Regions from separate parts of the Homo sapiens genome. Here regions 2, 3 and 4 are each reported to be linked to region 1. The links are microRNA targets in miRTarBase. Many come from high-throughput screens and were not tested one by one. Region 1 holds a microRNA gene; each other region holds the end of a gene's coding sequence.
Evidence for each region. Region 1 holds the annotated microRNA hsa-miR-619-5p (GCUGGGAUUACAGGCAUGAGCC, at 3,878-3,899, opposite strand). A microRNA usually pairs through its seed, bases 2 to 8, with sites in the 3' UTR of a target mRNA and lowers its output. Matches are read on the target gene's strand: a 7mer-m8 pairs with bases 2 to 8, a 7mer-A1 pairs with bases 2 to 7 and ends in A, and an 8mer does both.

Region 2: miRTarBase lists ZDHHC15 as a target of hsa-miR-619-5p. The part of its 3' UTR that is shown has no 7-base or 8-base seed match.
Region 3: miRTarBase lists THSD4 as a target of hsa-miR-619-5p. Seed matches in the 3' UTR shown: 8mer at 5,616-5,623, 7mer-A1 at 5,405-5,411 and 7mer-m8 at 5,352-5,358.
Region 4: miRTarBase lists SLC44A4 as a target of hsa-miR-619-5p. Seed matches in the 3' UTR shown: 7mer-m8 at 7,148-7,154.

The regions. Positions count from the first base shown.
Region 1 is chr12:108,833,085-108,840,908 of GRCh38, forward strand. It overlaps MIR619 (microRNA 619), which reads right to left and starts at 3,922; the gene lies at 3,824-3,922. All of the region lies in intron 2 of SSH1 (slingshot protein phosphatase 1), which reads right to left. RefSeq lists enhancers at 4,778-5,977, 5,282-5,411, 5,971-6,572.
Region 2 is chrX:75,373,168-75,380,991 of GRCh38, forward strand. It overlaps ZDHHC15 (zDHHC palmitoyltransferase 15), which reads right to left. Exons shown (of 12, transcript NM_144969.3): 11 at 5,953-6,031. The coding sequence ends at 5,985. Among named protein-coding and RNA genes, the nearest start is that of UPRT, 100 kb to the left of the region's middle.
Region 3 is chr15:71,775,787-71,783,610 of GRCh38, reverse strand. THSD4 (thrombospondin type 1 domain containing 4) reads right to left here. Exons shown (of 18, transcript NM_024817.3): 18 at 228-6,379. The coding sequence ends at 6,237. Among named protein-coding and RNA genes, the nearest start is that of NR2E3, 31 kb to the left of the region's middle. RefSeq lists an enhancer at 1,562-1,651.
Region 4 is chr6:31,856,210-31,864,033 of GRCh38, forward strand. It overlaps SLC44A4 (solute carrier family 44 member 4), which reads right to left. Exons shown (of 21, transcript NM_025257.3): 21 at 6,983-7,539. The coding sequence ends at 7,418. NEU1 (neuraminidase 1) reads right to left here and starts at 6,612. Exons shown (of 6, transcript NM_000434.4): 1 at 6,409-6,612; 2 at 5,790-5,982; 3 at 4,979-5,241; 4 at 4,230-4,412; 5 at 3,833-4,055; 6 at 1,450-3,736. The coding sequence starts at 6,567. The coding sequence ends at 3,510. RefSeq lists enhancers at 6,793-7,418, 7,419-7,824.

The sequences.
Region 1 (7,824 bases):
ACAGCTCTCCTTCAAACCAACGGGTAGCGGCAAGCAGCTGAACTGACCAGCGAGCTCGCAAAAGCAAGCTTTTTTTTTTTTTTCTCCCTAAATAAGACAGCAAGTGATGTGTCTTGGCTTGGTTTAGCAAATTTTAAGATAGTTCCCTGATGACCCCAAGAGCCCTCAGGCCCCATGGAAGCTGGAGCTAATGCATCTTCCTCCAAGCATCATCTGCTCTACCAGGATCTAAGCCCCTTCACGAGGGCAGAAGGTATAAAGGCTGCACTGTGCGGGAAATGCTATGGCAGCAAAGACAGCCAAACACGCCAGAAATAACAGGCACATGAAGGAAATGTTTCTGAGACAGCTCAAAAATTCCGAGAAGAGATTATCCCGACTGTCCCAGGTTCTCAGCCCTGTCTATGGTATGCAGCCCCATACCACAGTCATTTGTCACCGAGTCCTAACTTTGTCAGAGGCCCCTCCTTTCAGGTCTCTCAGGCACCACCCAGTTCTGGCCCTCCTCACCCCCGTGAGCCAGGCGACATCCAAGCAGCCCCACGGTGCACCCGGCTCTGTGCTGCATTCTCTGAATGTCCCTGAAGGCCAGGGCTGTTGTATTCTCTACCCACTCTCTGTCTAGTATGGGAGCCACTGGCCAGATGTGTTGACTGAACACTTAAGATGCAGTAAGTGTGACCAAGAAACTGGGTTTGTCATTTTATTTCATTTTAGTTAATTTAAATTTAAGTTTAATTAGCTACATGAGGCTATCAGCTGTGGTATAGGACAGCAGAGCTCCGGAAGCTTTTGGCCTGGTGAGAAGAATCAGGACAAGCGCCTCCCTGGCCTCTCGCCCACTCTGCACAGCCGCTAACCATTGCTCTCATGACATTCTTTCCCAGCCCCAGAACTTTTAGCCATGTGACATCATCTATTGATTAGAGTCCAAACTTCTTGTGCTAACTCTCTATGGGTTGCCACAATTAGCCATTGTATGTCGTTAACCTAAATTTCATTCATCTGCTATGTCCTGACCTTAGGGGCTTAGAATATAGTTAGAAAACAGTATTTCAGAATAAAAAACCATTCTTGTATTACCTCTCGCACTATTCCCCCTGTTCTCCATGCTTCGCATTCTCTGTTCTATCCCCAGCTATAGCACTGTCCCCATAAAGCCTACTGTGGTTCTCGGCTCATGGTGTCCTTCCTCCCATCTGCCTCCCGACGTCATGCCTGTCTTCCAGTGTTTATGCCTTCTCCAGGAAGCTTTCTCTTGTGGCCCTCGCTGTGAGCTATAGCTCCTCCCTTTCAACATCTTCTAGCACCTCCTCTTACTGTGCAGGTGAGGACACTGAGGCTTAAGGGTTAAGTCACTTGCTCAAGGTCACATACAGTCGGTCCTCTGTATCCGCGGGTTCCTCATCAGTGGATTCAACCAACTACAGACAGAAAATACAGTATTTGAGGGATGCTGAACTCTTTGAATTAGTGGGTTCTGCGGGTGCTTAAGCATCCATGGATTTTGTTATCCTCGGCAAAGGCGGGGGTCCTGAAACCAATCCCCTTGGATACTGAAGGAAAGACCACCCTTAGTGATAGGAACCTAGGAACCCAAGTTCCCTCATTTCCAAATCGTGTTCCCTGACCCACTTATTTACTAACTAGTGGTGAAGCCATCTTCCTGCCAGTATATTTTAACTTCACAATGGGATGTGAGGGCCAGGATGCACATGCTTTTTAAATCTCCCTCTGTGCTTGACATACAGTAGATTGAAAGTAAGTGCTGGTAGATACACTGGCCAAGCTGTGCTCTTCTCTGAAGTCAGTATTCCAGGAGTAACTCACCCTGGTCATCTCTGTGCCCTGGGCACACTGGGCACTCCCCACACACAGGTTGAACCTGGCAAATAAGACTCACAGCATCATGCCACGTGCGAGTTAAAGCCACCTGGAGGTCAGGTCAGGTCTTCCTGACAACTGAGTGCTTCAAATAACACAACAGCAGCTAAGTTCCCCACATCACCTTGAGTGTCTGGAGAGCTAGGCCTATGACTTCTCTGTCTCAGGATCCCTCTCAGTGCCCAGAAAACAGTGGACATCAATAAATGTAACACCAATAACATCTTCGTTGAGCGCTATGCTAAGCACATCAGGTATGTTAACTCATTTATTCCCCAGTGTCCATCTCTCAGTGTTTTATACATACGGGAACTGAGGCTCAATTAGCCGAGCGTGGTGTCGTGCTCCTGTAATCCCAGCTATTGGGAGGCACAAGAATCACTCGAACCCAGGAGATGGAGGTTGCAGTGAGCCGAGATTGTGCCACAGCACTGCAACAGAGTAAGACTCCGTCTTAAAAAAACAAAAAAACAGAAAACAAAACAAACAAACACTGAGGCTCAGGGAGGTTAAGTCACCTGCCCAAGTTCATGAGACCAAGGAGCCGGGAAGCAGGAAGGGGAAGGCAGGAGTGTAACTCTGAAACCTCTGCTCTTAGGCACTGGCTTTCAGCTGAACTGATACCTCTGGAAAACAGTCTCAAAAAAGTCCACTTCTCCTCCCAACAATTCAGACCTAAAAACCATTTGGCGGGGAAGGGCAGGGCAAGCTTCTGAGTTGGGGAGGGGGTGTGGGATCCCAAGCTGAGGTGTCTGTTGGCAAGCAGGGTGCAAAGGGCATCTGTGCAGGGAGGGGGCTGCAAGGGAGACAGAGACTGCTCACAGGCAAGGAATGAAATATTAAACATTAATGTTAATATTAATATTTATAATTAATATATTTATGATATATAGCATATATACATATTATATTAATTAATTATAACTATATTAATATAATTAATTATAACTATATTAATATAATCAATTATAACTATATTAATATAATCGATTATAACTATATTAATATAATCGATTATAACTATATTAATATAATCGATTATAACTATATTAATATAATCGATTATATTAATATTAATATAATCAATATTAACAAATATATACTATATAATATAAATAATACCTAAGTTTATATAATATGCATAATGTTAATATTTATTAATATTTCAGGGACAATGGGAGTCATGAATATGGAGAGACAAAACTAGAATGAACCCCAAGGTGCTGCATCAGAATTGAAGGTACCAGTCTGAACTCATAGTTTTCAACCTATTGAAATAAATATAGATGCACGTGTGTGTGTATGCACGTACATACAAATGTTCCCTAATTCTGCCCATTGAGAGGCCTGTGGTTAGCAACACCCCAACAGCAATAAGCAGACCTAGCTTGGCTCCTAAATTTCATTTTCCACTAAAAGGAACCAGAGCCCCTTGGATAAAGGACTGATTCCACAGGTGGGTAGGGAGCATCTGTTGCCAGAAAGCAAGAAAGCACTTAAAGAATGATGTGGACATGTCAAAGGGACACAGAAGCCAGCCTGGATGAGATCCCACTGGCCCTAACTGTCCACAAGGACAATTTGAGCAAGGATGTCAACAATTTAAGAGCAGATTATAAACCACTGAATAAAACAGAAAAATACAAAGAATTGAAACGGACATTGATGGCAGACAGGATATTAACATAATTTTAAAGTATCTCTCCAAGGAATGCTTCTGAATGATGAAGGGGAAAAGAATAACTGTACAGTGGAAAAGCCTGGTAAAACCCACCTTAGTGACCAAAGTGAATGTCACCATAGTGGGACAAAAGGAAATCAAGTGCCACCTTATGGGATTCAACGAGGACGCAGCATCCCTTGGGTGATGTTCCAGCCAAATACACGTGCCCGGTGGAATCACACAAGAACATCAGACACACTCACACTGAGGGACACTCTGCAAACTGACAGTACTGGGCACAAACATGTCCAGGTCATGGTCGACCGCAGTGGCTCATGCCTGTAATCCCAGCATTTTGGGAGGCTGAGGTGGGCGGATCACTTGAGGTCAGGGGTTCGAGACCAGCCTGGCCAACATGGCAACACCCTATTCTCTACTAAAAATACAAAAATTAGCCGAGCGTGGTGGAGCATGCCCGTAATCCCAGCTACTTGGGGCGCTAAGGCACAAGAATCGCTTGAACCCGGGAGGTGGAGGTTGCAGCGAGCTGAGATATCACCGCTGCACTCCAGCTTGGGCGACAGAGTGAGTTTCCAACTCAAAAAATAAAAAAATAAAATAAAATCCAGGCCACAAGAGTCAAAGAAAGACTGAGGAAGGTTCCAGACTGCAGGAGAGCCAAGAGACAGGATAACTAGATGCAATGGGCAGTCCTGAATTGGATCTTTTGTTATGAAGGACAACGCTGGGACATATGGTGACTCTTGAATGGGGTTAGAGGACTAGACGGTGGGAATGCATCAGAGTCAGTGTCCCGCGTGGATGGCTGTGTTGCGGTTCTGTGGGAGAATGCCCTGGTCTGTATTCCAAGGGTAATGGAGTAGCAGGTTGACAAATTACTTTCAAATGGTTCAAAAAAGAAAGTTCTTTTCACTGTACTTGCAATTCTTATGTAAGCTGGAAATTATCTCAAAATTAACGAGAATTTTTTATCGACGTAGTATTTTACATATTTATGGAAAACATGTAAGTATTTGTTACATGCATAAACTGTGTAATGACCAAGTCAGAGTATCTGGGGTATCCATGACCTTGAGTATTAATCATTTGTATGTGTTGGGAGCATTACAAGTTTTCGAGTTACCAATTTTTTTTTTTTTCCTTTGAGACAGGGTCTTACTCTGTCGCCCAGGCTGGAGTGCAGTGGGACGACCACGGCTCACGCAGCACAGCCTCCACCTCCCAGGCTCAAGCGATCCTTCCACCTCAACCACCCAAGTAGCTGGGACTACAGGTGTGTGCTGCCACCCCCAGCTAATTTTTTAATTTTTTTGTAGAGACAGGGTCTCACTATGCTGCCAGGGCTGGTACTGAACTCCTAGGCTCAAGAGATCCTCCCACCTCGGTCTCCCAAAGTGCTGGGATCATAGGCATGAGCCACCATACCCAGCCAAATTTTTTAAAGTTATTTTTTAAATCTCCACTTAATTCGATTTTGGTAAAACACGACCTGTAATTTTTCTTTATCGGTAGGTAATAAAAGCTTCAGATGATTTTACTGATCACTGGTATGGGCATATTTCATGACTTTGCCCTTTCATCTCTTGCATAGTTTTACCCTCACCAAGCAAGACCTTCCCTGCCTCAGCACTGTTTGCCCTCTTCGTGTTTTCCAGAACAGAAGTGGCCCTGTTTCGTGCCCAGAGCAGAAGAGAACGATGAAGAGCTCTGCTCTCCCAGGTCTTCCTGGTCTGTGTGTGTCCAGGTTTTGAGGGCCTCTCACATACACGGCTCTGGACCACGTAAGATCTAATTTTAGCATTTTCCTGCTCGGAGACCACATGTTTGGAACAGCAGGGGCTGACCTGCCCGTGCAGGCCTCCTATTGTGAAGGGCACGCGAAGCCAGGATACCGCAGCCCTGCAGGATGTGACTCAGCATCCTGTCTCAGTGCTGGGGCGGCCAGCAGCTCTGGCACCAAGTGCTGCTGCTGACCTCACCTCTTAAGACCACAAATACCCAGGGTAATTGGTGGGATAGGCATGCAGCATCAGCTCTCCCTGTTAAGACAACTTGCTTGTCCATCCATTATGCTGGGCTTCCTTGTGAACACCACAGGTATCTATCAGGAAGAGTTCTTCCGAGGAACTGATCTGCTGGTATTTTCAGGACACCAAGAATCAAGAGATTGGTCTTGTTTCTCTCTTTGCTTTGACTACCAGGAAACTCAAAGTCAGATCTGTGGCCAAATTCTGGTAACCATACCAATGCTATGTCATGTATTACATGTACAAACCTTCCCCTTACTTCATCTTATTTTCTTCTGCTTTCTTCGTGTCCCGATTTTCTCACTAATGTTACATTCTATTGTTCTCTATGAATGTTGTAAGGTGTTTCAAATCCTTTTTGGAGGGCACTACTGTAGATACAACACACATTACCCCTGAGGGATAAGGACTCTTTTTGACTCCACACAGAATCCCTGGCATTTGGCAAAGAACCCATATTTAGGCACTAAATACACATGGGCTGAATGGAAAAAGCCAATAGCTAAGTAAAAACCACCTCCATTACCATATTGTTTCACAAGAGGTTCTTTTCCCTTCCATCTCATGAGGTGGGGCCTGGTCAGGAGTCCCCAGGGCCTGGGAATTAGGTTCCTTAGGGAGCCTTCTTGCTGTAGGGGCAGCCAACAGGTCAGTGGCCTTGACTCCAGACCTAAAGAGCCACTCCTAGACTCCCAGCTGCAACAGACACAGCGTGGCACGGGTGGGCCTGGCCACTGGGGAAGTGACAAGTGATTTCCAGATGCTGCAGCCAGCCTGGCTCTTTCCAGACCACACTGAAGGCCCCTTCCTGTGGGAATTCTGATGGGGCCCAGATTTGGGGAAACACGCCTCGAGGACTCTTGGCAAGTGCGTGCCAGGCCTGGACCAGGAATGACTTCTGTGGGCACAGGGAGAGACCAGGCATTTCCTAACACAGGACCTTGAACAGCCTTCTCTGAAACAAAGTCTTTCTAAAAATAGCTTCAAAAGTAACCATTCAAGAAAAGAAAGAAAAAAAAAACTGTAAAAGTAAAGGCACTCAAGAATGATATTTCCCAGATAAAAGCCTGGCACAGGTTTCAGAGGAACTTGCAGGAAAACAGGTCAAGGCTGGGTTTTTCCTCTTAGGTGTCACTTGGTTAACATTGGTCTTTGGAGGGGAACAAGTGCGGCAGGAAGGGCTGGCACTGAAAATGATGGCCACTGGGTATAGGCCAGGGCCAGACACTGTACACAGAACAAGACTCTCTGGAGGCCTCAGGAGGGCCCTGAGAGGAGGAAGGCAGGTGGTGGGCCCAGGGTCAGACATGCAAGTGAGCTAAGTGGCAAGGCCGATGCCCCATCCAGAAGCCCCGCTCTGACCACACGCAGGCTCTCCCGGCATGTCCTCATTTATGCGGCAGTCTCTTGTATCTCACTGCAATTCTGCCCCCACACTGCAGGCTGGCCAGCGTGGCTTCCTCATAAGCACATCACCCTGCATCCCGACACTGACTACACCCACAAAGCAGGAGCCCCCGCACCCTCCAGCCCAATCGCTCAGTTCGCTTTGAAAATGGCTCCTCTCGGGGGCTGGGCGCAGTGGCTCATGCCTGTAATCCCAGCACTTTGGGAGGCCGAGGTGGTTGGATTGCTTGTGGTCAGGAATTCAAGACCAGCCTGGCCAACATGGTGAAACCCCATCTCTACTAAAAATACAAAAAATTCGCCAGGCATGGTGGTACAAGCCTATAGTCCTAGCTACCCAAGAGGCTGAGGCAGGAGAATCACTTGAACCCAGGAGGCAGAGGTTGCAGTTAGCCGAGATCGTGCCACTGCACTCTAGCCTGGGTGACGGAGCAAGACTGTCTCAAAAAAAAGAAAAAAAAAAAGAAAATGGCTCCTCTGGATTTTGATTAATCCTATTTTGATTAATCCTGGTTTCTCATTTTCAGCCTTCCTTGAAGCAGCATGACCCATCTGGATGTCCTCCTCATCTCAGGAATTTTCTAATAAGCTGTCTAAATCCAGAGATCCGACCACAGAACAATGAATGCCAAAGATGAGTTCTAAAGATGCGAGTACTTTCTTTCTAAACGGACGCTGCTTTGTGTATGGCTCTGCTCCTGGGGGCAGACGCGGCAGGCTAAGCCCTGCGGAGGAGGAGGTGAGTCCCAGCAGAGGGTCACTTCCTCTCAGTAGCCCGGCTGGTTTTCTCCACTGCAGGGTCAGACCATAGCCCTGACCCAG
Region 2 (7,824 bases), not on the chromosome of region 1:
ACACTGAACTATTGAAAGTGGTGGATTCATGGGTAATTTGTTTTCATTTCTCTACCTTCTACTTGCATTTTCCACATTTTCTTTAGTAAATATATAATTTGATACTTCAAAAATACTATTTTTGAAATCCACATGGAAATAACAAGAGCTTTGAAATTGGGCAATTATGAAGCTGAATTCTAGCTTTGCCTCTTATCTCCATAACTCTAGAAAAATAATGTCAATGGATCCTAGTTTACTCATCTGTAAAACTGGTATAATATAATCTTCCTGAAACAATATCTGGCATATAGTAGGCCCTCAAGTAGCTATTTGTTTAAGCTTTCCGGAAAATGATTTGGCCTTATCCATTGACCCTTTAAAAAATTCATACCAGTAATTTTGCTTCCAGGATTCTATCCTATGGAAATGATTATAAATGAGGAGAAAGATTTATGTTTAGTGATATTATTCACAACATTATGATGATGGAAAATTGGATAACATATCTTATTAAATTTATTTTTATTTTTAATTTTTATGGGTACATAGTAGGTATATATATATTTATGTATTACATGAGATATTTTGATACATGCATGCAATGCATAATCATCACATTTTGGTAAATGAGGTATCCATCACCTCAAGCATTTATCCTTTGTGTTACCAACAATCCAGTTATACTTTTATAGTTATTTTAAAATGTACAATTAAATTATTTTTGACTATAGTTACCCTGTTGCCCTAGCAAATACTAGGTCTTATTCATTCTTTCTGTTTTTTTTTTTTTTTTTTTTTTGTAGCCATTAACAATCCCCAATTCCCCTCCAGCACTCACCCCTCCACTACCCTTCCCAGCCTCTGGTAATCATCATTCTACTCTCTAACTCCATGAGTTCAATTGTTTTAATTTTTAGCTTCCACAGATAAGTGGACATAGATGAAGCTGGAAACCATCATTCTCAGCAAACTAACACAGGAACAGAAAACCAAACACCACATGTTCTCACTCATAAGTGGGAGTTGAACAATGAGAACACATGGACACAGGGAGGGGAACATCACACACCGGGGCCTGTCGGGGGCTGGAGGGCTAGGTTTGGGATAGCATTAGGAGAAATACCTAATGTAGATATACCACGGGTTGATGGGTGCAGCAAACCACCATGGCACATGTATACCTATGTATCAAACCTGCACGTTCTGCACATGTGTCCCAGAAGTTAAAGTATAATTTAAAAAAAAGGGAACCTCCTTAATCTGATAAAGCTATCTAGAAAGAATGAGAGAGTGAGCATCTACCACACACAGGGACAGGATAGAAAAATGGTTCATTAAAAAAAAAATTCTATGCCTACCATATGACTTAGCCATCCTACTCCTTGGTACTTACCCAAGCACAGGTTCACACAAAGTCTTGGTCACAAATGTTTATAGCAGCTTTATGTGTATGAGCAAAAAACTAGAAACACTTCTGATATCCATTAATAGATGGAAAAGTAAATTTTAGTGTGTGTGTGTGTGTGTGTGTGTGTGTGTATATATATATAATATATGTATATATCCAGTGGAATACTACTCATCAATAAAAAGAAATCAATTATCCTTACACACAGCAACAAAGGTGAATCTCAATTATGTTGAGTGGAAGAAGCCAGACAAAACAAAAAAATACATTTGTACAGATCTACTTGTTTAAAATTCTAGAAAATGAAAACTGATAGTAACGAAATAAATCAGTGTTTGCCTGGTGATGGCGCAGGGGTTATTTATAAAAGTGCAGAAGAAAACCTTTGGGAGAGATGGATATATTCATTATTTTGATTGCAGCGATGGTTTCACAGATGTAAACGTATTTCAAAACTCACCAGATTGTATATTATAAAAGTATATAGTTTTTTTGTAGTATAAAGGCACAAAAATGCAGAATAAAATTAAAGTGCTAGTTTCTTTGAATTAAAAAAGTATGAGATTTTAATGTTTTTATACGTGTTTCCAAGTTGCACTCAAAAAATGATCTATGAATTTAAACTCACATCAGCATTGTATAAGAACATCTGTTTCAGCATGTCCTTGCCTACAATAGGTACTGTAATTTGTAAAAATTGGCTGACTTAATAGATAAAAATTAGTATTTTAGGTTATTTTAATTTGCATTTCTTTACAGTGAAGTTGAACAAGTTTAATGTTTATTTTTCATTTTAATTTCTATTTTGTTGATTGTTTGCATCCTTTGCCCATTTACTTTTTACAAAATTTGAAAATAATTTCATCTTTTATTTTAGATTCGGGGTACATGTGCAGGTTCGTTAGGTGGTATATTGTGTGATGCTGAGGTTTGGGGTATAGATCCCATCACCTAGGTAGTGAGCATAGTACCCAATAGGTAGTTTTTCAACCCACCCCCTTCTGTCCTTCCCCAACTAGTAGTCCACAGTGTCTATTGTTGCCATCTTTGTTTCCATGGGTACTCAATGTTTAGCTCCCATTTATGAATGAGAACATGCATTATTTGGTTTCCTGTTTCTGTGTTAATTTTCTTAGGATTATGGCCTCCAGCTGCATCCATGTTGCAGAAAAGGATAAGATTTCATTATTTTTTATGGCTGTGTAGTATCCATCATATACATGTACCACATTTTCTTTGTCTAGTCCTCTGTTGATGGACACCTAGGTTGATTGCATGTCTTTGCTGCTGTGAATAGTGCTGTGATGAACATATATGTACATAAGTCTTTTTGTTAGAAGGATTTATTTTCCTTGGGTATATATACCCAGTAATGGGGTTGCTGGGTGGCATGGCAGTTCTAAGTGTTTTTGAGAAATCTTGAAACTGCTTTCCACGGTGGATGGACTAATTTACATTCCCATCAACAGTGTATAAGCATACCCTTTTCTCTGGAGCTTCACTAGCATCTGTTATTTTTTGACTTTTTAATAATAGCCATTCTGACTGGTGTGAGATAGTACCTCATTGCGGTTTGGATTTGCATTTCTCTGATGATTAGTGATGATGAGCATTTTTTTTCATATGTTTGTTGGCTGCTTGTATGTCTTCATTTGAGAAACGTCTGTTCATCATGTCCTTTGCCCATTTTTAATGGGGTTGTTTTTTTTTTTTTGCTTGTTAAGTTCCCTATAGATTCTGGATATTAAACTTTTGTCAGATGCATTGTTTGCAAATATTTTCTTCCATTCTGTAGATTGTTTTTGCTACTGATAATTTCTTTTGCTGTGCAGAAGCTCTTTAGTTTAATTAGATCCCACTTGTCAATTTTTGTTTCTGTTGCAATTGCTTTTGGGGACTTGGCCAAAAATTCTTTGCCAAGGCCAATGTTGAGAAGGGTATTTCCTAGGGTTGCTTCTAGGATTTTTATAGTTTGAAGTCTTACATTTAAGTCTTTAATCCATCTTGAGTTAATGTTTGCATATGGAGAAAAGTAAGGGTCCAGTTTCAGTCTTCTGCATATGGCTAGCCAGTTATCCCAGCACCATTAATTGAATAGAGAGTTCTTTCCTCATTGCTTTCTTTTGTTGCTTTGCCCATTTTCTAACTGTTGTGTTTTTCTTTTGTTTACTGATTTGCAAGAGCTTTGTAAATTAAGCATATTAAATTTTGTGTGTTGTATAGTTTGCAAATATTTTTCAAGTTTGTCTTTTCATTTTGAAGAAAATATAATCTAGAATAAGTACATTTTTGGGGTAAAAATTATGGCAATAATTTTTTATATACAAAATTTAGAGGCAAAATGAAAAAATTAGCATTGATTCTACATTTTAAACACAAGGGATTCATGTTTTCTTTCATCCTTTTTTATTTAAAAAACTTCAAAAGAAAATGAAGGGAAATATATATTAAATATCTAATTACTTGGACATATATAATGTATTAATGCATTCTTCTACTGATAGACATTCAGGTTGTTTTCAGTTTGGAGCTTTTTACAAATATCACTGTAGTAATTATCTACATACAGTTTAAACAATTCTTCATATCTTAATAAGTTTTAAAAGGTTTCTCCCACTCTTCCCTCCTGTGTTCCCAAGTACTTTTCTATTATTATCAGAATATGAGGCCCGGCACGGTGGCTAATCCCAACACTTTGGGAGGCCGAGGTGGGCAGATCACTTGAGGTCAGGAGTTAGACACCAGCCTGGCCAACAGGGAGAAACCCCATCTCTACCAAAAATACAAAAAGCAGCCGGGCGTGGTGGCACACACCTGTAATCCCAGCTACTTGGGTTCTGAGGCAGAAGAATCACTTGAACCTGGGAGGTGGAGGTTGCAGTGAGCCGAGATCACTCCACTGCACTCCAACCTGGGCAACAGAGTGAGACTCCATCTCAAAAAAAAAATATATATATATGTATATATGAGTTTGTGATTTCCACAAAATGAATCACTTTATTAATATATTTGGACAGAGTGCCCTGTAAAAGGCATAAGGCATTGCTTGAAGGCAATTTTGCTTATCTAGGGAAGTATATAAAAAATGCATTTCAAAGTTCCTTAGCATATTAATGGTCCTGATAAGTATTGCACGAAATACTAGGTTCCATGATAGGCACAAAAAAGAAAGGATCCAACAGTTAAATAAAATTTAAGGGACCACTACAACCTCCTTTTGGTGAGCCACAAAACTCAATAGTGTAGTAAAACCCCTGAGAATTCCTACACTAAAGCCAACTTTCTAATTTTGCTTATATAGGGTTTTATAAATTTATTTACCAGATAATTTTTCTTCCCTTTAACATCTGTTACCATGCCAAAGTAGTAGTGTTTCCCCTAGGAAAATACTAAAATAAAATAGACAGATTAGCACCACAGATAACCCAAATCTAGATATTACTATCATATAAGTTGTCTTACCTAAACATCAAACATTTCATCAGGGCTTTGGATAAGGAAACAGACTTGGTTCTCTCCTTTTTTAATCTTTGATAATAAATAAAGACACATCACAAATAACTCAGATTTTGAAATGTAGTGCCATGGTGGAAATAGCATGCTTTGAGGTCAGATAGACCTGAGTTACAACCCTAGGTTGGCCACTTACTACATATGCAGACTTGGATAAGTGATTTAACCTCTCTGCATATCAGTTTTCTCATAAGTAAAATGGGAATAGTAACATTCATCTTACAGTTGATGTGAGGATTAAATAAGATCATATATATCAAGTACACACCAAAGTGGCTGGCATATACAAAGTTTTATACAATATGTACACTTGTACACAGCAGAATTTCTGTAAGGGAAAGAACTGAAGACCTGGGAACCCACGAACAGATTGTAAGCTTCTGAATAATTGCTAGCTTTTTTCATGAGAATAGGATTAGAAGTTTCATCCGATCAGAGCTATAAGCTCTATGGTATTTCTATTACTAACATTCTTTTAATATTTAATTACACTGGGTTTATACCTGTGAGTGTTGCAAAAAGAAGGTCGTCGAGCTTTTCACCAGGCCAAAGAGAATCCCATGTGTAAAGTTGTCTGCCACTACTTAACAAACTCATAGCATTTTAGGAGGGTTACAGTGTAGGAAGGATGCTTTTTTGCCCTTAGTGGGGAAGACTAGGTTATTAACTGACATAATGGAGTCAGGCAAAAGAAAGCTATTTGTAATCTGTACCATTTCAGAGACCTGGAATGAAACAGGAGGAGGCTTATAATTCACAGTATGAGAGTAAATAACCTTAACGGAATGTTTGGGTGTCTGGATCCCCGGAGTTTTTTTCAGCACAAGTGACATAAGTGTGAGTTTGCAGGGAATAAGGGCATCTTTTTTTTCAGCACACTGCCAAGGGAAATTATGTATAGAACTTCTGCTTATGCATGCATTACAAGAGTGAAGAATTTAAAATCTTTTTCACCCAGGATAAGAACTTATTTCTTTTCTAGTTCTTCTCCCAAGCCGCCTTCTTAGCAGTCCAGGTGCCACTGTATGTGTCTCCCTCAGAATACTGACCTGTCTGAGAGATGCAGGAAATGTGAAAACTGCTATGTTTCCGTTTCCACAGCAAGAGATGATGAGCCTTCTGGATAATCTGCAAGGTTGAAACGTGAAGATGATCAAATGTCCCCGTGCCTTATATGGGTGGGTATTCATTCACTGGCAGTTTTCCTTCTTGTTCAATCTCTGCAGGCAACAGATACCTGCAAACCTCTAAAGACTGATGTGTAACACAGAAGCATTTGTAACCAGACATTCACATTCTAAGAATAGTCAGCCTGCTATACTATGAACTAAGATTATTTATCAGCATTATCTGATCTATAATACTGGCTGGTATTTGACTTAAATAGCTATGATGACAGCTCAACATAATCTGACTTTAATGGAATGTTTTGCATCTTGCTACCCACAAAATTACCCTGTTTTGCTGTTATTCCACCGGACATAATTGAGTTAGCTATTACAGTACTTTAGGTGATGGTGTGTTTCTAAAAAAGGAATGAGGTATCTAGAAAATAAGAGGCTTTGGGATTAACAAGCAACATCATTTATGGTACAAATGTTTTTGTTTCTGACCTCCAGCCTTTTGGGAGAGCACACTCTGAATCAGCTTGCTGAATGTACAGGTAATCACTTTTCTCATACTCACAGCATAATAATATACTTGGCATTTTGAGATTAAAAAGTTGACAGTAGCCATCCCCTACAGTTTCTGCACAGCACAGTGTCTTTTATGTGCCATTCAGAGTGCTTTCTTAAGTGTGAAATCTAGATTCCTAAAGACAGAGGCCAGCCAGTCAGTGTGAGTTATCCTTGCCACAGAAGGCTGCAAGCTCTCATGCCACTGAGTTAAACAGGCAGATTCCAGACAGCAGGTTGCTTTCTTCCAGGAAAACTGGAAAAATAAAAGTGGCTCTGAGAATGTCTCTTTGGAATCATGACCCTATGGTAGGCCCAACATTCTGTCTTGTCTGGAATCCTAGCCTTAGGGTATTCTTCCCTTTAAGTTTGGGCAGAAAGCAAATGTATTGGCCTAGGTCTTCAGTGAAAGATACACAGAAAATAACTTTATGTTTATCAAATAAAGAGAAAAAGAGGTTGCAAGTGCTTAAGCATATATCTCATCTTGCCTACCCAACATTTCTACTAAGAAGGCAACTGAAAAATAGTGAAAGACAGTTCTGAAAGTGCAATAAATTTCCTTGCCTTGCTGTTCCAAAGAAGTGATGCTAATTCTTTCAATGTTCACTCCTTGCTGATGGTTGGCTATTTCAGAATTTTTAGGTGTGGTTTGGTGATGAACCTTTCCAAAAGTTGGCTGTTTGGATTCTGCTTTTAGGATGCTTTTACCTTTTCGTACTGCAACATACACTCTTATTTGGCACAGAAAATTTTTCCTCCAAGCAATTATTTGAATTAAAATCCTGCTCTTGTAGACACTGAGGCTTGAGCTGAAAACCCAATTATCAACTTTGGTTTCACTCCCAGGATAAGATTAAGCTAAGGTTGCAAAGGTAGCTCACCGGGTGAGGACTAAATTAAAAAAGGAAGATACCTAAAAAAAATCAGGCTCTGGGTAATAGAAGACAAACACAGAATTTAGGGAGTCAATTCACCTTCACCTCCTACCATCTGCACCTATACTCCTTCCCCCAACTACACCTGCCCTTGCTGCCTATGTAGTAGTGATTTCACTTACTCAATATATGTCTACTTGAACCAAGAATGATGTTATTTTAGTCTTAGTGTGTGCTGGTTAAGCTCTGGCTCTCTTCCTGTCTTCTCCTAGATCTCCTTTACTTTAAAATTCTAGGTTCTCACATAAACCCTTGATGCTATGTGAAGTGACTTTGGCAGTATAGGTACACTTCTTTCTAGCCATTG
Region 3 (7,824 bases), not on the chromosome of region 1:
GCTTCTCAGGTGAGTCTAATGCAGCCTAACATAGGACGGGTGGGCTCATGTTCTTTCTAAGGCGTGTCTCATTCTCTAACTGGCCCGGCTCCACCTCAAGCACCCAAAGCCAACGTCTACAAGCGGCTGACCTCTCAAGGGTCTGAGTTTTATTTTTAGAGGGGGCTATTTGTAGGAGAACAGAACGTGAATAAGGCCAGAGAAAGCACACGCTTGTCAACAAAGCAGATATTTCAACCAGTTTATTGTCTGACTCTTCTTTTTAGAGGGCGCTATTTGCAGGAGAACAGAACGCGAATAAGGCCAGAGAAAGCACACGCTTGTCAACAAAGCAGATATTTCAACCGGTTTATTGTATCTTTACAATAATAAAAATAAATTAGTCACACACAAAAATAGTCATTTTTGCTGAAGAGAAAACAGACCATATTTACTCACATAATTCGCCTTCTACCTTTCACCTGCTTATGTAATAATTTAACACTGTAGAGGGGACATGGAGGTGACGGAGTATTTAGTGGGTTCCTTGCTCCTGGCTGTGCAGTTCACAGGCCCCACAGGCCTTGGCCCCAGCATCCCCAGCAGGGACAGTGGAAGTGTCAGAGCAGTAAATGCCACCACTTCCCTCTCAGCCTCTCCCTGTCCCCGCCAGCCACCTGCCTCACCCACGGCTCTAACCAAGCCCACCGAGCAACTGACGCTGCCAGTCTAACAACGGGGACAAAGCAAAGAGAAAGGGATAACAGACACCCTCCCATTTCCTTCTCCAAATGTCTGTGGATGAGGGGAAGGCAGATTAGATGAGGAAATATAATATTTAAGATGAAAAAGTAGCAATCAGGTTCAGGTACAATGCTACCTGAATGAGTCGAAAAGCAGAGTAATTTATATTTGATCTTAAACCTCAGGGAACTGGACTGATTAGCATACTAAACAATTGTAACTATGGACTGAGAAAAAGACATCAATCATCGTACAGCGACATTCCAGGAGGCTGGGTTAGTATGATCACATGCTTTCACACAAATGTGGATCGCATATGTAAATAAATACCTATCAGGTCCCTTTAAAATTAACACATTCTAAATAATAGAACTATTTTGGTGTAGTGACTCATTCTGCAGATAGAGTTCAGAATACATATTTCCTATAAACATCTTGTATTTACAGAGAACAAAATAATAAGTTATAACAAAGTATATCCTTCTGTCAACTGAGTCGTGGGGAAGGGGTCAAGGCAGGGGGTATTAGTTTGTATAGCAGGTGGCTTCCCTCTCGCAAGAGAAAGGACTGAGAAAGTTGGCTGGAAGTTTTCACCCTCTTGCGGTCACACCCTCAGCACGATGGACACCCCCCCCCTCCATCATTATCTGCTGAAATGAACAGGAATGGGGGGTGGTTCAGGGTGCAGGGAGTTACTTTGCCCCTGCAAAGGTGCAGAAACTCCAGTCGAGCTGAGAAAGAGTGATGGTATCTATAGGGTCCTAGGCAAGCCATGGCTCTGCTTACACCACGGTGAGAGACCCTGGGCAGGCAGCCCCCCATCCTGCCGCTCAGCTACGCCTCGATGCAGACGGCGGCTCTGACCAACTTGCCAGTGTTTCTCTGAGACATGAGGCCGCATTCAGCTCAGGGTTTCAGTCCCACAGTGGGCTCCCCATGGCTGACAGGGTGGCAAAAGTCAGAAACGGAAAGTGCATAGCTGTGTACTTGCCTTCCCCCACCAAACAAATCACCTAAAGCTCTTCTACTCACAGACTCCCCTAAGCCCTGAGTGGAGACGGCCCTGAGCATCACGTTGCCCAGCCAGATGCTTGAATCCCCTCTCCAGCATCCCTGGCAAACGGCCTCTGCTTCCACCTCCAGTGATGGGTGGGTCACCACCTACCACAGTCCCTCTATCTCTGGAAGGCTCCAACTTGTGAAAAGCTGGGTCTCTGCAGGAGCTAAACTGTGCCTGCCTGTAGCTTCTTGGTCCTGGTCCTAGGAGAGCTCTCCTTGTGCCCTAGTGCCTTCTCCAGCCTGAGGGTTCTCATGAAGTCCTTCCTGCTGTTTCTGAGAGTCTGCACACTTCATCAGGACGGGGCATTGATAAACTGATGTTATTATAGATGATCGGTTTTCTTCTTAAAGTATGGTTCCGGCAAATGCAAACACAATGTGATGTGATCCTCACCACTGTTTTCTCCTCACGTAGCCTGCATGTCTGTGGGTTTTGTTTTTGCATGGTTCCATCCCACTTTGACTCACACTGAGCTTAGTCAACTGAAATTCTTGCCTCTCTCCCACCTTGTATTTAGTTTTTCATTTTAGCCCAAATATAGTACTTTATGTGGATTCCTGGTGAATTTTTAACATCCAAGTTTTATTCTAGTCTCCCTGATCTTTTTGGATCCAGCACGTGTCACCCAAGCCATTGGCTCTTCAACTTCACGTCACCCATACATTTTGTGAGGAAGCCATCGATATTTTCCCATGTAAACCATATTAAAATGTTTTATATGGCAAGGATCAAATACTAGTCTCCACCCACAAGGCTGATATAGATTATCCAGCCTGTTTTAAGGGAAGTCATGTTTCTTTTTACCACTTATATTTATGTCTTCCTCCTCATTAGAATTGATATTCCAACTATAAAGTGGCTATCCGAATGAAAAGAAAACCCACAACATTTGTTTAGACAGGTCCTGGTAATATCTGGATTTCTCTGCCACATAACTTGATGAAAATACACCAAGCTCGTGTCTTCTCTTTTCTGTCCCTTTGTAAGGCCATTCTTTTTAAAGCAAAAAGAGTGTTGAATGCTAAATACTTTGAGAATAAGTAGATGAGTACATAAGAAAATAAAGAAAAAACCCTCCAAGAACTCTGGGCCAGAGAGGTAAGGTAAAGGGACAGGTAGGCACAGTGCGGAGAATTCTTGTCATGTTCTAGTTCCCTGGGGGCGGGGACAGGCTGCCTTGCCCTCCCTGGGGTCCCCAACAGCTTGCAGGCAGCGGGCACTGAGCATACCTTTACGGAACTGAACTGACTCCCTCTAGTGGCTGGCTTTAAATGGCTTTTTTTTTTCTTTTGGTGTTTTTGTTTGTTTTTTTAGTTGTATTTCTTAGGCCATCCCTTTTCTACAGAGAGAACCGCAAGTCATCGTGAGGGTGGAAAGAATCGATAGTACTAAATGTCCTTTGCCTAGGCTGCAAGAGGCACAATTTCCTTTTTCAATGGATGAAAGTAAAACGGCAAACTATTTTTGTTTGGACTTTGTTGACTTTTGTGAGGAAACCATATGACAGCTTTAATATCTAATTTTAAAATTCAGAGCAGGAAATGAGGCAATCCCGTACACAGGCCAAGAAAAAAACCGTATCAAAATGTAAATATCAATTCCACATTACGGCCAGTTAAAGAACAATGGGAAGACCAAGAAGGAGATGGCAGTGACAGAAGAAAGGAGAGGGGGAAATAATGGGCACTAAGAAAGCAGAAAGAGACATATTTGGAGGGAGATGGCTACCGAAATCTGGGCTTTTCTTAGATCCTCTCCAAGGAAAGTTATCACTGGAAATACCCAAGGCCCTGATTGTATGCACTGTGCTAGGGAGAAAGACATTCAGATGCTGAAATAAAAAACTAGGGAATTAGTAAAAATTGGATCTCTAAGACAAATAAATTGATCAAACTATAATAATAATCAAACTTCTAATAATGTATAACCTCTCCAGAGATGAACTCCAAGAACAGCTCAATGGTTTGTTGAAAAAAAAAAAGAGACCCCTGGTTTATGCACTTTCTCCCCAAGGGAGACATGGGGTTGATCCATCGGGTCTTCTTCAATTGCACAGTTGGCAGGCTGGCCATTCCCATGGAGGGTCATTCTCCTTTTAAAGAATGGTTAGGTAACCTTCAGCAGCCATAGGGCACTTTAGACATAAAGAGACAAAGCCATCACTGACCCAGCCCAGCCACGAGAATTCCTGAGTTGGAAGAACCAGGGTGTTCACCTCCCACTCAACAGAGAATTCCCTTTAAGGACAGAGCGCTCTCTCATGTGTGGTGGCCCTTGCCTCTGTTGGGCGGCTTTGATGGCTAGAAGGTGTTCCTTTAACTTGAGCTAAAACAGCCTTTCTCTCTTCCACTCATTGATCTTAGCCTGCCCTCCAGCATGAAAAGAAAACCTCTTCAAATGACTGGCTTGCTTGGAAAGATCTGAGAGCAGCCACATACAGGAACAACTCTCCTCGTGACAAGCAGCAAAACAAGTGGTGAGTGGAAAAGAGCAGGCCCTGAACAGCACCAGTCAATATGCTTGGCCTCTCTGGTCTCTTTTCACTTTGTCGGTTTGGGAGCCTGGGCCTCTGCCAGGATGCTTATCTGTAGGAGTTCCAAGAGAATCAGGAGATGGGGATGCTTTTGGGAAATGATGCCTGGGGCTCCCTAGAAGAGAAGCTGGAAAGCTACCCACAGAAAGGCCAAATAGAATTTCTGAAAGCCCCAGGTTAGTGGAAGCCTAAAGAGCATGTCAGGCCAGGTTGCCATACTGCTTCCAAAAGCTGCAAACCATCATCACAGTGGCAGATTTGTCAGCTAAAAGAGCAAATGGGGGAAACACTTTGCTAAGAATCCAGGCTTGCTCTAAAAGGGAAATATGCTCAGGACCATAAGACAAATTTTCTGTAAGTTTAACATTTGTTTAGCTTGCCATTTTTTCTTAATGGGTAAAACATACATATATTCCTCTTAACTGTTTTCAGAGGGTCCACCTTTCAATATGCACTGCATCCTTCCAGGCCTGCGGCCTCTGGAACTGGATAGTTGGGGAAAGTGAATTGGAAGAGATGGGGAAGGGTCCACAGCTCCTTGTCGCAGGCCAACTGCATTAATGCAGAGCTTGGTGCTCAAGTCTGGGGGTGGGCCATATGGACTGTGAGTCATGGGGGAGGGGAGGAATTTGTGGCCACAGAGGGAAATTCATAAACAAAACCAGAAAGACCAGAAAGAGACTTTTTCTAATACAGCAGTGTTTCGGCTGGGACAGGTTGGCCGGACTCTCCAGGAACGTGGTGAAGAGCGTGGGGGAGGCGGCTGAGGCAGGGCAGAGCCCAGGCTGCAGAGCTGTGTGCTTCACAAGTTGGCTCTGTGGTCGGGAAGGCTCCACGGCCATAAGGACCCTGGCCTTTGATTTCCTGGGAGGAACAGCACTTGGAACGGAGTAAGAATTTCAGGCAATCACCTGGTTTCCCCAATGGCTTTCTTGTCTCACGGACAGTTTAACAAAGCTGGCAGAGTCCTGTAACTAGGATCTGTAACTTTGGGGGTAAGGGCAAGTAGGAACAGACATCCAAAACAACTGAGTGCTGGGATAAAGGCTTGACCGGAAAGATTTCAGGGGCCTGGGCTTTGTTTGCATTCTGGGAAACTTCTCAGTCTCTTGGTCAGAAATGAAGCAGCACCTTTCACATCTAAGTACAGGCCCCAGGCTGGATACTGGTAGATGACTGGGGCGGGGACTCAGCTCTTCCACTGGATGGGTGAATATACCTGGCAGGTCAATTACTTAAGTTGAGCCTCAGTTTCCCTGTCAGTAAAATGGGGATAATGAGTCACCCCCTGCCTCCCATTCTGGGATGTTGTGAGCTGCTAAGGAGCTAGTATCTGTGAGTACACCTGCTAAATAAAGCACAATATTCATGTGAGCTATCTGTGTCATAGGGCAGGAAAACAGTCTAATGTCTTTGAGAATGAAAACAGGCACATCTGGGCTGAGGTCACAGAGGGATGCACGCGTGTCAGCAAGGCTTAGTGGGGCGCTGGGTTGGGGGCGCTGCCTCCTTGGACTCTCCAGGGTGCTAAGTTTAGAAAGACCAGTAGCACCAGGGACGGGGCAGTGCTCAGTCAGTGGCCCATCTGCTGACTTGAAGGTGCCAGATGGGAGCAGGGCTGAGAGCTCCATGTACTTCCCACTGCTTGACTTTCAAAGGGCACCATTAGCAGATGCCAGGTCCAAGGAGGGGATCATCAGTACATGGTGATGCTTAAAGGACTGACTGTGGCTTTCAAACATCTTGTGTAAAAAGCCCCTGGGTACCACGGGGTGCATTCACCGGAGGCAGGGGTGGTGACTAAGTTGGTTGGCAGCGCCTGGGCCAGGGGGCCCGTGGTGGAGCAGCAGCCAGCCAGGCGCACTGCTGAAGCCCCCGGGAAGGCAGTGATGCTGCCCTACTGATGGGGGTGCAGGAGTGTTATCTGCTCCCCAGGAAGCCCGTCTGCCTGTTGGCCACACGGGTGCAGGAGGCACAGCAGGCGGTCTTGTAGTAGTTGTAGACACAGAGTCTTGCCTGGACCACCACGTTGCAGTTGTAGTACTTGTCCTTGCAGTTTTCATCTGTAGCGAAAGAGAATGAACAGAAGACTCCCTGAGCACAAGAGGCAGCCTGGACCAGTGGGAAGAGAAAGGGCAGTGGCTGTGGCTTTAACTCCTGCGCTGCTGTTTATTACCATTGTGGGGTATGAATGTGTGCCAAGGGCTCACAGGTTTTTCTCTTTCTTTTAAACACGATAAGGGAAATAGGTATAGAGAATAAGTTACTCATCTGTGTCCTCACTTCTCTCTGATCACTTCCTCCTTCATCCTCATCACTCCAGAGGTAATCAGAAGTTCCAAATTTGGCGTTTCTTATCCCCAAACATTTCTTTACACTTAAACTCTATGTGAGGGAATCCCTCACCACTCTGTGACATTTAAACATAAAAGATACATACTGTATAAGCTCCTTGGCAACTTGCTCGACATTGAATTTGTGCGATTCATTCATATTTGATGAATGCTATATTTTCATTATTGAATTTTCTTGTGTATATAATCCACAATTTAATCATTTTCTATTGATGGACATTTAAGTTGGACATTAATCCAATTTTTTTTTTCTAGTGCAAACAATGCTTTTAAGTAGTTTTGTTACCATCCTCTGCCTGGGCCTTGCTGGGTCATAAGGTATATCCAACTTTGCTAGATACAGTCAGTTTGCTCTCCAAAGTCGGTATAACTGTTTATGTTCCTGTCAGTGAAACAGAAGAATTCTCTTTTTGCCATATGTTTTAGTTTTTGCTGAGCTAGTGAATGTGAAATGATTCCCACGTGAGGCTGAACATATCATGTATATTTGCCATTCAAGCTTCCTTTTCTGTGAATTGCTTTTCTGATCTTTTGCTCATTTTCTGATTTAGTTAACTTTAAAAAATGATTCACGAAAATTCTTTATATCTAATGGATCTGATCCTTTGTGAGTTAGGTTATATGTGCTGCAAATATCTTCTTCAGCCTGTGGCTTTTCTGATCACTTTGCTTCTGGTGTTGATTGATAAACAGAGATTTTTAATTTTAATGTAATTGATATTATAATATGTTTTCCTTTGTGGTTTGGAATTGTTGGTTTCATTTAAAAAACCCTTCTGTACTCTGAAATAAAATATAAATTTCCCTGTTCTCTTCTAAAAGTTTTAAAATGTTCTTTTCACATTCTTTTGACTAATCCACCAGGAATTAGGGTTTGTGGAGTGTATGGTATGTGTAGGATGAGAGGAGGGAGTTCAGTTTTCTTGTTTTTTTCCTTGTATATGGATAAACAATTGTCTCATGACCATTTATTGAATTGTTCATCTTTTCCCCACAGCTTCATAATATGACCTCCATCATATATCACACATCCTTTATATGTGTATTTCTGGCCTATTCTGCTCTCCTTGCTTTTTTTATCCATCCTTGTGCCAAGATGCCTTGATATGTGGTAGGAAAAGTCCCTCAACATGGTTAATCATCAAAACAGCCTT
Region 4 (7,824 bases), not on the chromosome of region 1:
GCCCCAATTTTTAAATAACTTATTTTATTTTATTTTTTAAATATTTCCTTGGCCGGGTGGGGTGGCTCACACCTGTAATCCCGGCACTTTGGGAGGCCGAGGCGGGAGTATTGCCTGAGGTCAGGAGTTCGAGACCAGTCTGGCCAACATGGTGAAACCGGGTCTCTACTAAAAATACCAAAAAATTAGCCGAGCGTGGTGGCAGGCGCCTGTAATCCCAGCTACTTAGGAGGCTGAGGCAGGGGAATTGCTTGAACCAGCGAGGCAGAGGTTGCGGGGAGCCAAGATTGCGCCACTGCACTCCAGCCTGGGCAACAGAGCAAGACTCCGTCTCAAAAAAAAAAAAAAAATTTCCTCACAGAGTAGAGCTAACTCATAAGCAGTGTGCCCAGAGTCGGCCCACTTTGTCCCATTAGTACAAACAAGCTCTTTCCCCTTTCAGTCTCCTGCCACTTGTCCCAATCTTTCCTGTGTATTTTTTTTTTTTTTAAGATGAAGTCTTGCTCTGTCGCCCAGGCTGGAGGGCAGTGGCATAATCTCGGCTCACTGCAACCTCTGCCTCCCAGGTTCAAGTGAGTCTCCTGCCTCAGGCTCCCGAGTAGCTGGGACTACAGGCGTGTGCCACCACATATGGCTAATATTTGTATTTTTAGTAGAGATGGGGTTTTACCATGTTGGCCAGGCTGGTCTAGAACCCCTGACCTTGTGATCCGCCCACCTCGGCCTCCCAAAGTGCTGGGATTACAGGCGTGAGCCACTGCACCTGACCCTTCCCTGTGTATTAAAAGAAAAAAAAAAAGCTGGAAAAAAAAGGTTCTTTAACTATTTCTGCAACTTTGACATACATATAATTCATTTTAGCTGGACACTTGCACTTGTTTAAAAGTTCTGACCCTGGTTTTCAAACTTAAACGTATTACGAATCACCCAGAAGGCTTGTTAATGCCTGGTGGCTCCAACACCAGAGCTTCAGATTCCATGGGTCTGTAAAGAGTGAGGGAGGGAAGGTCAAGCTTTTTTTCTTTCTTGAAGGTTTTTTGTTTTGGTTTGGTTTTTTGGAGATGAGGTCTCACTCTGTCACCTAGGTTGGTGTGCAGTGGTGCAATCATAGCTCACTACTGCCTCGAACTCCTGGGGTCAAAGAGATCAAGCCATCCTCCCATGTAGCTAGGACTATAGGTGTGCGTTACCATGCTTGGCTAATTTTTAAATTTTTTAGACATGGGGTATTGCCATGTTGCCCAGGATGCCCTTTAATTTGATCATCCTGCCTTGGTCTCCCGAAGTGCTAGCATTACAGATCTGAGCCACCACACCTAGCCAGGAAGGTAGTGTCTGTCTCTCAAGCCTCCCAGCACTTCTGTTTCTAACAGGTAGTAGTTCATGGGTCAGACATTCATAGTGTCCTTTCCTTTTTGTCTTCCACTATTTCTTTTTCTTTTTTTTTTTGAGCAAGGGCTCTCCCACTTACCTGCAGGCTGAACAGATTCTTTTCATAAGCATCTGCCTGGGGAATATTTTCTTACATAATTTGCCATAGGAAGTGCTCACTTCTCTGTCAGGCTAGCTGGGACAGGATTCCCATCTGCATTTCACACACTTGCACCCTATTTCATGGAGGATGGTATCCTACCCCATGTTAGAAATATAAAACAGCGTGGATTTTTTTTTTTTCAGACGGAGTCTCACTCTGTTGCCGAGGCTGGTGTGCAGTGCTGTGATCTCAGCTCACTGCAAACTCCGCCTCCTGGTTCAAGTGATTCTCCTGCCTCAGCCACCTGAGTAGCTGGGACTATAAGTGTAAGCCAACACGCCTGGCTAGTTTTTGTATTTTTAGTAGAGATGGGATTTCACCATATTGGCCAGGCTGGTCTCGAACTCCTGACCTTGTGATCCGCCCACCTTGGCCTCCCAAAGTGCTGGGATTATATGTGTGAGCCACCACGCTTGGCCAAGTGTGGATTTTAAAATATCTTACAGGCTGGGTGCAGGGGCTCAAGCCTGTAATCCCAGCACTTTGAGAGAACATGGCCGGCAGATTGCTTGAGCTCAGCAGTTTGAGACCAACCTAGGCAATATAGTGAGACTTTGTCTCTACTAAAAATTAAAAAAATCAGCCCGCCGGCACCATGGCTCATGCTTGTAATCACAACACTTTGGGAGGCCGAGGCGGGTGGATCACCTGAGGCCAGGAGTTTGAGACCAGCCTGGCCAACATGGTGAAACTCCGTCTCTACTAAAAATACAAAAATTAGCCGGGTGTGGTGGTGGGCACCTGTAATCCCAGCTATTCGGGAAGCTGAGGCAGAAGAATCGCTTGAACCTGGGAGGCAGAGGTTGCAGTGAGCCGAGATCGCACCACTGCACTCTAGCCTGGGTGCCAGAGCAAGACTCCATCTCAAAAAAAAAAAAATTAAATTAAAAAATAAATAAATAAAAAATAAAAAATATCTTATGGCACTCCCTTCATACTCATTACACCTGTGAAGATCAACCTGTTTCTCGGTGATAAGAAGGAATGTAGGCTGGGTGCGGTGGCTCATAGCTGTAACCTCAGCACTTTGGGAAGCTGAGGCATGAGGATTGCTTAAGCACAGGAGTTCCATACCAGCCTGGGCAACATAGCGCAACCTTGTCTCTACTGAAAATAAAAATTAAAAAAATTAACCAGGCATGGTGTCACTGACCTGTAGTCCCAACTACTCCGGAGGCTGAGACGTGAGGATCACTTGAGCCCAGGAGGTTGAGGCTTCAGTGAGCCGTGATTGTGCAACTGCACTCCAGCCTGGGTGACAGAGCGAGCCCTGTCTCAAAAAAAGCAACAACAAAAAAAGAGGGCATGTCAAAAGGAAAAGAGGATTTGATTTGCCAAAGTCAGATTTTCACAGGCAGTACGCACATCAGGTCTCTCCCCAGAACTCACCCAGGCTCACAAGGATACATGAGGAAAACAGACACGAAGATGTGCATTGACAGAACCATAGAGACTCTACAAATATTCATTATCCTTCATTAAAAATTTTAAGTTACAAACATTTTGATTGATAGTCAGTCATGGTGGTGCACCTAGTCCTTACTCTGAAACCAAATATCCTGCCATCTGGGGACTTTCACCAGCCCTGTCGGTTATCTTACCGCAACACCAAAGAGGAGGCTCAGCCTTCCCCAGTTCCCTGAGTTCACATTGATTCAATTCTACAGCTCACTAGACCTGCCCAAGACAGGACCAATCAATGTCCCGGGAGGGCAGAGAGGGTGGTGGGGCCACACTTAGCCATATGGAAAGACAGTATTCTCAGATGAGGGCAGGACTTTTTTGTGGGAGAGGACGCCTAGCTTTCAGTCCTAAAGGAAGTGATTTCCCTGGTAAAGGGAAGGTGATTTTGCCAAGGCTGGAGTCTAAAGGAAGATGGAACTGTCTTTCAGGCGTCTCCAGCAGACCCTCTACAGACCCGTGTTCCTGAAGGCAGAGTCCTGAAGGCAGAATACCCCTGTGGCAGTGGCACAGCTCAGAGTGTCCCATAGACACTGATTTTGGCCACGGAGATGCTCTCTGTGTAGTGGTTCCGGCCTTTCTCATACAGGACGTAGAGCTGGGGGGCCTGCTCCTCTCCATCCATGCTGCCCTCCAGGGTTGCCAGGGATGAATAGCCACTGGGGCCTGGCCATAGCTGGACTGTCTCTTTCCGCCATGAGGTACCATTGCTGAAGCTCCATCGCAGGGTCAGGTTCACTCCTGGGGAGAGCAGGAGAGTCAGGGAGAGAGGGTCTCTGCCCAGGCCTTGTCTAGACACAGGGCTCTCCCTGCTGACCCCACCCATGAGGCACTCACGGAACTCTGGATGTGCTGGGTTGGAGAAGAAGACAATGCCGGAGCTGGTGACTACAGCTCCTGCAGCTACCACAGGGTCCACGAGCTCAGGGTCGAAGGTCACATCACGGGGCCTTAGTGTATCACAGGCATCATAGCTGCGGAGGACAATTCGGCAGTGGCAGTGGTAGTTGTTCTGGTTTCGGGCATTGATGACGACTGAGCCATCTGGGAGCTCATAGGGCTGAGGGGAGAGGACAGGACCTCAGGGAGGGAACAGGGAAAATGCCCTGTCCCCGAGGGGAGCAAGGGTGTGTGGCACTGAGTGGAGCAGTCAGACCCTGGGTCTGTGCGTGAAATGATGTTCTGGAGGGCAGGGAGGGTCAAATGGGTAGGGAACATCTCATGGACTCCTGACCTGGCATTCATCAGGATTGAAATCATTTTCCTGCTTGGGCTGACCGTAGGGGATGCCGCTGACCCCACTTCCGTAGCGCCAGGAGGCACCATGATCATCGCTGAGGAGACAGAAGACTCCGTCCCGCTCCAGCGTCCCATGGCCACACACGATGAGGCGGCCCTTCCGTGGCTCCCGCTGTTTCTGTGGGAAAGGGAACTGGGTGTCACAGAAGGAGACTCTAGGGGCTCAGAGGCAGGGACAGAGAACCCACCACTTCCCAAATGCAATCACATGTATGGTCCCCTTGAGTTCAGCCCTTGCTCACTGAGGGTTCCAGTCAGATCCCATAAATACACACCCTGTTTGAATTAAGAAGCTCTCCCAGGGTGTACAGCTGGACATGTGCACCAGGGGCCCAGCCACAGGGTGCATGAGAGCTTAAACCCAACCTGTGCTCACTCGCCAAGCTGTGCACCCTGGCACAGGCTTGTGTCTGTCCAAAGAGGCAGTGCCTTTTTCTACTTTGCATGAGGGTATTGCATGGACTAACGCAGTCCTGTTGACAATGCCAAATGGGAAGCCAATGGCAGAGTTCCCTCTTCTCCTGATAATGTGTTCCTACCAGGATGCCCTGTCTTTCAAGGAATCCCACCCAAGCCAGAAAATCTGACTTCAGAGAATCTTCCCCTTGGAAAGGAGTCCATTTGGGGGTATCCCTCAGACTCTCCACAAGGCAGCCCCCTCCACCTATCTCCTAGGACAGAGACCTGAATACCAGAGCCCGGTCCAGGGGCAAACACTTCAGTGCCAATATCCAGGGAGAGATTCCGGGGTGTGCTCCAGGAAACACCATCATCCTTGCTCCATACCAACATGGTAGAGGCCACCTGGCAGCCGGCCTTGTGAGCACAAAGGGAGTAGAAAAGAAATACTACTCCTGTCTCAACATCGCTCACTACTGCCCCAAGGTTCAGCCCATCGGGGACATCCCCATCATTGACAATGAACGCTGTAGGAGACCATGTGCTGCCTGAAAAAAATTGGAGGAAGAAACCCAGAGTGAGCACTCTGCAGGTACCCTTTCTACCACTTCCCGTTAATTTCCCACCTTCTGCTAGGGACCTCAGGCCTTCCGATGGTCCCAGGGTGCAATCCAACACTTGCACTATCTATACCTCTTGTCCTGTTTTATTTTTCTCCATTGCATTTATCACCTTGCAACAGACAAAAAAGTTTACTTGTTTATTATGCTTGTCTGTCTCCTTCCAGTACAATTTAAATCCTGAGGGCAGAGATTTTTGATCTGTTTTGTTCGTGGCTATATTCATGAAACCTAAAATAGTGCCTGGTATAGGTATATAGTACCCAATAAATGTTTGCTAAGTGAATGTCCAACTCCTTGGTGATCCCAATTTCCAGATCACTGTCCTAGACACTTGCCCTTCTCGGGTTCCCTCTACCCCTCAGGGACTCAGGCAACCAACCCTCTAAGTTCCCCTATCCTCAGGGCCCTTGGGCTCATTGGGCTGCCCACCCATCCAACCTAGCACCGGCTCTTTCACCCAGACATCTTTATACCCTGGTCCATGGACCTCCGCAGGGCGATGAACTTGGCCCCCTCATCGGATGAGGACATTTTCCTCGCCTCAGCAAAGGCGAGAAGAGTGCCCCGCGGAGTGGCTGTGATGAGCGGGATGCGGAAGGTGTCCACTGAGCCGATCTGTCTCCCGCTCACCCACAGCAGTTGCTCCATGGTCACCAGCGGCTGCACCTGTCATGGGAGGAGGAAGGGTCAACAAAGACAAACTTGTCTTGGGGGTTTTAGGAACCCACGTTCCGATGGGAGAGGGAGGATCTAATGGGGATCCCGAGTAGGGGATGGGGTCCCAGAACAAGAAAGAGGAACACGAAGGGGAGTTTGGAGCGAAGCTGGAGGCTCGGAGCAGGGGAGGGTCTACGAAAGGAGAAGGCGCCTTCAGGGAGGGAAGGGGACCCCAAAAGAGGAAGGGGCTCGAATGAGGAGAAGGACGGGGACCCGGAGAGGGAGAGGGGCTGGGAGCGGTAGGAGGAAACGGGGTCTGGGAGAAAGAAAAGGGTCCTGTCGCGGAAAGTCGGCTCAGCCGCCCGCGTTCCGGGGGACACTAGGTGTCGATCACCTGCGCGGGTCGGGGATGGGGCTATGCAAAGGGTGACTCACCAGACCGAAGTCGTTCTCAGCCTTGGACCAGGAGGCTGCCAGAGACAGCAGCAGGAAGATCGCGGCAAACACCCAAACCCTACAGCCTCCCCAGAAGCCCAGAATCCGCGGCCCCCAGCGTCTGTCCGGGAGCGCCGTGCTGGGTCGCTCCCCAGTCATCTCTCCCCGCAGCTGCCGCGACCCTGGCAGCTAGACTCCACAGAGTCGGGAGTCAGCTGACCCGGACCCTTTAAAGCGCAGATGTCACCCTTAAGCCCGCCCCGGTCTGGAGGCCCCGCCGCGCTTCCCGGACTCTAATTGGTCTTCAAGTAGCTCATCTCCTCCCACGTGATCACGCAGCATCTCGAAGCTTGCCCTTCCGATTGGCCCTCTTGGAGGCCCTCTTGGAGGCCCGGAGCGCGTGACCCGAACGGGAAGCGGACTGGCTGGGGTGAAGAAGGGACTGGCACCATCCTTATTGGGCTTTTTGATTGGCCGCGGCACCAGGACACGTCACAGGGGCGGGGCCGATTTTAAAGAGCCGGGCGCGGAAAAAAAAAGGCCGCCTGTCGTCGTGGAGAGAATGAGTCACAGATTTACTGAGTTAACAAAATATCTTTAATAAAATCTTTTTGTTTGTTTGTTTTGTTTTGGAGACAGAGTCTGTCACCCAGGTTGGAGTGCAGTGGCGCGATCTCGGCTCACTGCAACCTCTGCCTCCCGGGTTCAAGCGATTCTCCTGCCTCAGCCTCCCGAGTAGCTGGGATGACAGGTGCATGCCACCACTCTCGGCTAATTTTTGTATTTTTAATAGAGACGGAGGTTTCACCATGTTGGCCAGGCTGGTCTCGAACTCCTGACTCAGGTGATCCGCCCGCCTCAGCCTCTCAAAGTGTTGGATTACAGGCGTGAGCCACGGCGCCTGGCCTAAAACCTTTTTTTACCACAAAATGGAGACCTGTAAGGCGAAGTGAGGTTGGATGGCTGGACGGTGGGGGTGGGGTGCAGTCCTGGATCAGGGCCGGAGCTGTCACTTCTTCCTCTTCTTGTTGTCCGGGGGCGCCTCGTTCTTCTTGCCCAGAATCTTTAGAAGGCTCTTGGACATGTAGTAGGGCCGGTCCAGGGAGCCGTTGTTCCGCTCCAGGTCTTCCACTGAGCCGCAACAGAGACCGGTTAGAGCGGACCCTGGGGCCAGGAAATCGGGGACTGGGAGGCAAGCTGCCTGCGGGATTTGGAATCCAAGCTGCACCACCACCCTTACCCCCGGGCAGGTTATGTAATCTCAGTTTCCTCCTGTGAAGTGGGGTCGGGAATATTATGTTGCATAGAGCGATGATAAGAATTAGCGGAAAAAATGCATGTCAGTCGCTTAGGAGGAGACTGGCAAACCCTGAATGGATGCATGCTGTAGAGTAAGAAAATCCCCTGCCGCTACAG